Regions from separate parts of the Homo sapiens genome. Here region 1 is reported to be linked to region 2. Evidence: microRNA targets listed by miRTarBase, many of them from high-throughput screens and not tested one by one. Region 2 holds a microRNA gene; the other region holds the end of a gene's coding sequence.
The links. The annotated mature microRNA hsa-miR-5589-3p reads UGCACAUGGCAACCUAGCUCCCA and lies in region 2 at 2,420-2,442, shown strand. An mRNA with a match to its seed (bases 2 to 7 or 8) in the 3' UTR can be bound and repressed. Matches are read on the target gene's strand: a 7mer-m8 pairs with bases 2 to 8, a 7mer-A1 pairs with bases 2 to 7 and ends in A, and an 8mer does both.

Region 1 (4,000 bases), not on the chromosome of region 2:
TCATCACCACAGGAGCCTGTCACCCCCGCAGGCGTGTCCACGCACACACGCCACATGCACAGTTCAGGGGCCCACGAGGGCAGGCTCTGGCTGGCACCGGCCTGGCCAGCTGCGCCATGTCAAGATGCCCCACGAGGCGGCCCAGGCCTCTGCCTGATCTTGATCTGAGGCTGTGGAGGGGTTTCCCTAGTGTCCCATGGACTGACTGTGTCTCTCTGTCCCCACCCGCCCCTGCAGTACGAGTACAGCTTCCGCACAGAGCAGAGCGCAGCCGCCAGGCTCCCGCCCAGCCCCACCAGGTGTCAGCAGATCCCGCAGTCCTGAGGAGCCAGCGGCCACCTGCGGGGAGACCACCGCCGCCCAGACTACTGACGGCAGGGGCTGCTGCCCCCGCCTCCTCCTGCCGCCTCCGCCAGCCCTCCCTCCCACACTGCCCCAGCAGGGCTGGCCCGGAGACTGGGCAGCTAAGTGGGCGCATCCTGTCTTCAGCTGGCCTCACTGACACCCCGGCCTCCCTGGGGACATTGTTCATAACCATGACTAATCTGTGTGTGCTGTAGTGACCAGCGGCTCCTAACGTGTCTGTGTGATGACCAGTTGTCCTCCAAAAACCTCACTCACCACGGAGTCACCCTGAGGGCCCCGGGCAGTTGCCCTGGCCGCCCAGTGACGCCCACCGGCTCCCTCCGCTCCCTCCTGTCACCTACCAGGGCAGACCCCACTAAGCCGTTGAGTCTCTTCCTGGAAGACCCTGAGGGCCGGCAGCTTTGCCTAGGACTCTCCAGGGTCGCTGATCCTCCCCGGCCCAGGGCTGCCAGGAACAAGTTCCTCTCTGCAGGATCTCACAGCAGCCCTGAGAAGACATGGGAGGAAGAAGCCAGTGGCCCTGGGGTGGACCCTGCCCTTTGGACATCCCATGGACTTGTCACCCAGTCGCCTGGAAGTCGGGGAGCAGCACCCCTGCCCCCGGTGGAGGGGTTGTTGCTTTCTGGGGAGGAGGACGGTTGACGGCCCTGCTTGGATCCACCACCAGGACGCTGTGCTCGGCCATGGCGCGCCTCCCCCAAGGGCTCATCTGTGCAACAACCACATGCCAACAATAGCTCCAGGTGCCTCAGCCCCGTGCCCTGACCCGGGGACCACAGGGACACCCTCTGAGACGTGCTGGCCCCAGGAGGATACAGGCACACGGGCACCCAGCCCCTCTCAGAGCCAGGCGTGTCTTGACGGTATCTGCTGACGGGAACAAGTCATTCTGAAAGGTCCCTCTGACCCAGGTCACCAAATTTGGGCCAGAACTGGCACTTCCGAGTGCCCACTGGTGCTGGCGTCCTCAAAGTGCCGGGCGCCAAGTTCAGCCCCAGGTGCGTTTGCCTAGGCAGTGGTGGCTGCCATCCCTCGGGGCCCAGGCCCTCACCCGAAGGGCTGCCTCACTCTGTGGTGTCAGGCACTGGGCTGTGTCCTGATTCCTCAGAGTATGGGGACCTGACATCTTTGGGTCCCCAAGAGTTGGCTCTTGGATGTGGAGGCTTGATGCTGCGGTTGGGGGCTGCACTACCTGCGTCCGTGGAAGCCTCTGCCTCAGCGGGGACGGCCTCCTGCTGCAGGTCCTGGGCAGCCCACAGTAGTGCTAGCTGAGGCCCAGAGGAACGGGAGGAAAGGGAGGCAGCGCCGGACGGCGCAGCTGGCCAAGAGGCGGGCGGGGCCAGAAATACCTCATGCCCCTGCACCAGCCCCTCCGTCTCCAGGCCCCAGGCCTCTTTGTGGACCCATCTTCCTCCTCTGCCACCCCGATCTTCACTCGGATACCTCTTGATTTCTGTGGATAAGGGAAGCGGCCACTTCTCCCTCCCTGAGACCCGAGGATGCCCCTGGTGGGGGTGGCCTTCTCAGGACTCCTGGGTGGCACAGCAGCAGGACCTTGTCATGGGACTGATGCTGAGCAGGGAGGGGGCTGCCAGGCTGGCTGCCGATGCTCCGTTCACATAAGCCAGTGTGGTTCTGGGGACCTGAGGAGCCCTGTGGCACCCACAGGGGGCACCTATGTCTGCCGTGGCTCCTCGGGTGGTGCCCTGTGTGACAAAGCCCAACAGCAAGGGTGACTCCTGGCAGGTGGGGGCAGCAGGAGGGCAGAGGGCAGAGCTCTGGCCACTTCTGCCCACTTCATTAGGGTTTGTGAACTTTGTCCTTCACCTCTTTTCGTGCCCTGGTTGTGAGATTGCCTCTAACAGGTAATGCCAGGGGCCCTTCACTCCGCCCCCATGACTGGGAAGAGGCCTGTGGCAGCGCCGCTGGACCCTAGGAGGCTCAGAGGCAGTGGTGTGGGAGCCCTGTCTGCAAGGACGCAGAATAAGCAGTGAGGGCGGCTGCAGGAGAGGAAGGGGCTCCCACAGCCCCCACTGATGCCGCTGCAGGCCCCTGTCGAGCTGGGGTCCCAGCCAGGTGCCCCCGCATGCCCTCCTGCAGTTGCTGGATGGATAGGGACACCAGGAAGAGGACAAACTGCATGGACTCAAGCGAGCTGGAGCCATCTTCTCCATAGCATTACGGACTTAGCATAAGAGTAAATGACTGTGAACGTTGTAGTAAACGGCAGCTTAAGATAAGTAAGCAGAGACAGTGTTAAGGACGAGTTGGTGTCTGTGGTAGCTTTTAGGCTGCTCCTAACCCACCATTTATTGCCTTCTGAGAGGTGGGTGAGGACAAGCATGTGCCTGTGTGTGTGTGTGTGTGTGTGTGTATATGTGTGTGTGTGCACGCACATGCGTGTGTATAAGCCCACCTGAGTGGGGCTCGTGCAGGAGAACTGAGGCATGAAACTCTGGCTCAAACCTAGGAATTGAGAGCGTTTCTGTCTTTTGGGAGAGTACTTTTCTCCACGAGCCCTCTGGCCACTGTGGGAGGGAAGGACAAGGGTTCCCTTGGAAATGTGAAGGGTCTTGGCCTCATCCCTCAGGTCCCCCCACAGCACTTCCCACTACTGCTTCTGTCCCTGCTGGCAGCCTCTGTCCCTCCAGAACGGCTAACCAGAGCACACTGTCCCCACCGCCTCCCCTTTCTCTCTGGAAAGTTGAAGTATCTCCAAAGGCCTTGGAAATGGCACAAAGGTGATAAGGAGCAGGTGCTTTGCTGCAGTCTCCCTTGCAAATGTATAATTAAGGCCTTTCTTCCCACCCCAAGTCCAAGAACAAATGCCAGCCACGTCCTCCGCCACTTGGAGAGATGAGAACCCAGTGGGGTCACGTAAAGGAATTGCAGGTCGGTGAGAGGACAAGAGGGACTCCCATGTTCTAAGCACCTGTTCCTGGCCAGGCTCTAGGCCAGGCTCTCTAAGCACATTTCTCCTTTCATTCCCCCTAAAAACAGAGTGACCTGGAAGTAGATGTTCTTTGCTCCTTGTCAGAGTTGAAGAGGCTGACTTGGCCCACTGCTAAGCGGCAGAGGCAGGGCCAGCCATCCTGTCGCAAGCCCGTGCTGGGGCTGCCCTTTCTGTTTCCAGTCCAGTTACGGACTTCCCGGCCGCCACTGGGCCCTGCCGGTCACCAGGCCACTGTGCAGTGGGCGCAGAGCATGGTCAGGAGTGGCCTGCCCGTACTCCTCCACCCAGATGAGGGCCCTCCAGAGCCTGCAGGCATCTGTGGGGAATCCCAGCCTGCAGGTTCTTGGAGAAGCAGGTGAACCTAAGGATGAAAGCAAAGGAGGGCCTTGAGGAAGCAGCCCCCAGGCCTGGCAGCCACGCAGCGGCTGAGCTCATGAACTTGGTTCGCAGCCTGCCTTGCCCCTGGAGGCCACGCCAGGCGCTCACCCCTGAGCCCACAGCCCCTGCTTGGGCTGCCTGGCACCCTCAGGGTGGCCCGGCCTCCTCCTGCCACTCTGAGCACATGTCCGGGGGTTGCCACCAGAGACGGCTTTGTTCTCCCAGCTAAGGCCGTGGAGCTGCTGTGTGACTGTGTCAGGCCTGGACAAGGAAGACCCTTAGGGATGACGTCCCCGCTGCATA
Region 2 (4,000 bases):
CAGTATGCTAAGTAGGGGCCAGGGTCAAAGTAAATGCTTGATGAATCTTTGCCGGATAAATGTATATTATCTGCTGGATGCAGTGGCTCATGCCTGTAATCCCAGTACTTTGGGAGGCAGAAGTGGGCGGATCATGAGGTCAGGCGTTTGAGACCAGCCTGGCCAACATGGTGAAACTGCGTCTCTACTAAAAATACAAAAAATTAGCCGGATGTGGTGGTGCACGCCTGTAATCCCAGATACTCAGGAGGCTGTGGCGGGAGATGGCTTGAACCTGAGAGGCAAAGGTTGCAGTGAACCAAGATCGCACCACTGCACTACAGCCTGGGCAACAGAGTGAGATCCATCTTTAAAGAAAAAGAAAATTATATTATCATTTGATGGGGGGATCAGGGACCCTTCAATAGGCAAAATTTCCCAAGCTGGCTGAATTGACATCACTGTAGGGTGCAGATTCAAACAGACTCATCATCAAGCCCAACTGCTTCTTAGAGGCAGACACCACAAAGCCGTCTCAACATTCTCTTTAATAAGCCTGCTAAACATTGAGAATTATTTGAGGACAGAGAAAGCCTTTTTCCAGGAATGCTTCAAGCATGATGTGTTTCCTTCCCTGGTTTAATATGTATAATTTGCCTTCTGGAAAAGGAACCCAGAGACTCTGGCATGACTTAGGAAACAATAGACAATGGTCACAATTTACTAAGCATAACTGTCTCCTGCAAGGATGACGAAATCCATATAGCGCAAGGATTTGAAGCCCAAGAAGAGGACTTTGACCTATGGATTTCTCAGGAGGTTTCGTTATGGTGGATCCTGGAGTCAGATGGTCAAATGCCACATGCTGCTCACTCCCGGAATTGGGAAATAGGGAAAAAATGCCAGCACCTCCCCTGTTTGTGCAGCTGCCCTGTTTTGCCAATTTCACAAAGGCAAAAGTAGGGAAAATCCATCCAGGCTAGGGTAGAAAGATGTTTGCTCTCCTCCTGCCAGCCAATCCCAAGCAAGCCCTGAGTTCAGTGTCCTGGGTGTGCAAAGCTCCTTGCTGGCGGAGGGGAAGGCTTTAGGATATGACCTTCATGGCCAGGCACAGTGGCTCATGCCCGTAATCCCAGCACTTTGGGAGGTTGAGGCGGGTGGATCACTTGAGGTCAGGAGTTCGAGACCAGCCTGGCCAACGTGGTGAAACCCTGTCTCTATTAAAAATACAAAAATTAGTATTTTTGTACTAAGTACAAAATGAGCTTGCTGGCCCATGCGTGTAATCCCCGCTACTTGGGAGACTGAGGCATGAGAATTACTTGAACGTGGGAGACAGAGGTTACAGTGAGCTGACATTGTGCCATTGCACTCCAGCCTGGGTGACAGAGCCAGACTCTGTCTCAGAAAAAAAGGGGAGAGGGGCGTGGATAAGACCCTCATGGCTCATGGGACAGGCAGTTCTCCTACCACTCTGGCCCCCAAGGAAGCGGATGGGGCACTTCTCAAGCATATCTTGGAGGCTTGGCTGGGAAGTAAGAAACACCCCCAACTCCGCCCCATTGGATTTATAGGGATTCTTGCCCCACACCTGTTTAGATATTAACTCAGCCACTACAAGTCAAGGCAAACAGGCCAGGGCCAGGGCAGACAAGAGGACAGACAAGAGGACAGACATCTGCAGCCTGTGGCCTCCTGTCACCCTCCCACCCACCATGGAAATGCCCTGGCCCCTAGGGTGGATTCTGCTTCTTTTGGGAAGCCCCCTCATCCACGCTGAGCCTCTGTGAGTCTGGGGAATGGAGGGGGCTCAGCCGGCTTCCTGCACATCTGATGTCTGCGTGATTCCAGCTTATGACTCGTGTTCGGTGTCATTTTCCCTACTCAAGTCCCTTAATGCCCTTGTGTTAGTCTACTGGCAGGTACATCCTGGTGACCCCCCGAGTTCTGAGGGTTGGCAGTCCGGAGAGCATTCACATTCAGGCCCACTCAGACTCCAGACAGCCCCTCACAAGGACCCTCAAGGTGAACCTCACAGTGTGGGACTTCCCCATGAGGAAGACAGTGTTGGCAAGGAGCCAGCTCATTCTCTCACCAGGAAACAACTTTATGGACCAGGCACCTGTGACGGTGGGTGACAGGCTGGAATGTGTGACCCCAAAGGGAGGCTACAGGTCAGCAATAAAGGTAGAAAGGGGCAGACTTTCTGTCCAGAGAGTAGATAAAGGGCCCAAAGTACTTACCACTCCTCTAATATCCTGTGCATTTAGAAGCCAAAAGTCCCTAAGCCTGGGCTCCAGGAAGCCTCCACTAGCCCATTTGATGCCTCTCTGAGAACTATAAAAGGTGCCTTCTGTTGGTAGCTTGGGAAGATGAGCATGGACTTGATTTCGTCCTTCCTTTGGCTGGGTGCTCTTGTGCAGTGAGCAACCTACACAACTGCACATGGCAACCTAGCTCCCAAAGGCAGAGTCAGAAGACCCTCAGTCAATTGCTCCTCCCAGGATCTGTCCCAGGGCTTTACCCCCAGCCAGGGAGACCCCAGCAGAGCCTGAGGAGTATGGATATATATCTCTCTCAGGTTCCCGAGAGCCTGATGTACCTCCCAAAACCAGGGCAGCAATATGTCATCATCCGGGCAACTTGGGCACCCACCTCGGGCTCCTCATTCATGGAGAAGATGGTGCTGGTGGCTCTTCATGCTGGCTACATCTTTATCCAGACGGAGAAGACCATCTACACCCCTGAGTACTTGGGTACAGCCCCGAGGCACTTGGCTCGGGGCAATCACTGGCTCTCATCCCGTCTCTCCCAATGTCTGAGATACTCCCATCCCCTAAAATCTTCTCCACCTCCCAAGATCTCTCTCTATGCATAAGTGCCCCCCACCCCGCCACTGCCCAAGATGCAAACTCTCTCTCTCTCTTTCCCTTCCTCTACCCAATACTCAGAGTCCTCCTTCTCCCCTAGTTCACTACCGGGTGTTCACTGTGAACCACAAGATGGACCCTGTGACCAGGACATTCACTCTGGACATCAAGGTGGTCTTTCCCGATGAGGGGTGGGGGGTGGTGGTGGATCCTGGACACTGGGGTTACATGGTGTGCTGAAGTCCTGGGGGCATGAGCCACCAGGGCCCTCCCAGAGGGCAGTCACCAGCCCCACCCCCTATCCCCACAGAACCCAAAGGGAATCACCGTGATTAGCCAGAGTCTGATGGCCAAGGATGGCTTCTTTTTCAGCTCCTTTCACCTCCCAGAGCTTGTCAGGTGCCCTTGTCAGGTCTGGGAGCCCGAGGGGTGGCAAAGGAGGCTGTCATTCTCTGTCTCCATCTCTCTTAACTTTCTGTGCCTCAGTTTGGGGACCTGGACCATCGAAGCCAGCTACCAAAGTACACCCAAGCAGAAGTTCGAGGCTGCCTTTGATGTGAAGGAATATGGTGAGAAAGGTGTGGGTGGGGTGAGCAAGATGAATACGCCAGGGACAGGACTTGGAATAGAAAGGAGGTCTCAAGGGGAACCTCTGCTGTAACCCAGGGCCTGAGCTGGATGCTAAGTGTTGGGTGCTGGTGTTGCAGCCCTTCGGGCTTGACAGAGCCACCAAGGAAGGAGCAGGACTGGGAGGGGACGAGGGAGCAGGTAGAATACTGAGGGTGACCATGGCTTTTTTTTTTCTCCCAGTCCTCCCATCTTTTGAGGTCCAGCTGGTCCCAAATAAGACTTTCTTTTACCTCAAGGATGAGGCTCTGGGCGTTGACATCCAGGCTCGGTGAGCCCCCTTCCTCCCAGCTCTGCCAGAAGACCAGGGACACAAAGATTGAGTACAGAGAAACAAGCACCAGGTGCTATGGCTCACATCTGTAATCCCAGTGCTTTGGGAGACCAAGGCAGGAGGATCACTTGAGGCCAGGAGTTCTAGACCAGCCTGGACAACATGGCAAAACCCCTTCTCTACCAAAAAAAAAAAAAAAATTAGCCAAGCTGGCTGGGCATGGTGGCTCACACCTGTAATCCCAGCACTT

Region 1: miRTarBase lists MVB12B as a target of hsa-miR-5589-3p. Seed matches in the 3' UTR shown: 7mer-m8 at 2,708-2,714.

The regions. Positions count from the first base shown.
Region 1 is chr9:126,502,940-126,506,939 of GRCh38, forward strand. MVB12B (multivesicular body subunit 12B) reads left to right here. Exons shown (of 10, transcript NM_033446.3): 10 at 238-4,000. The coding sequence ends at 324. Among named protein-coding and RNA genes, the nearest start is that of NRON, 94 kb to the left of the region's middle.
Region 2 is chr19:10,035,972-10,039,971 of GRCh38, forward strand. It overlaps MIR5589 (microRNA 5589), which reads left to right and starts at 2,383; the gene lies at 2,383-2,442.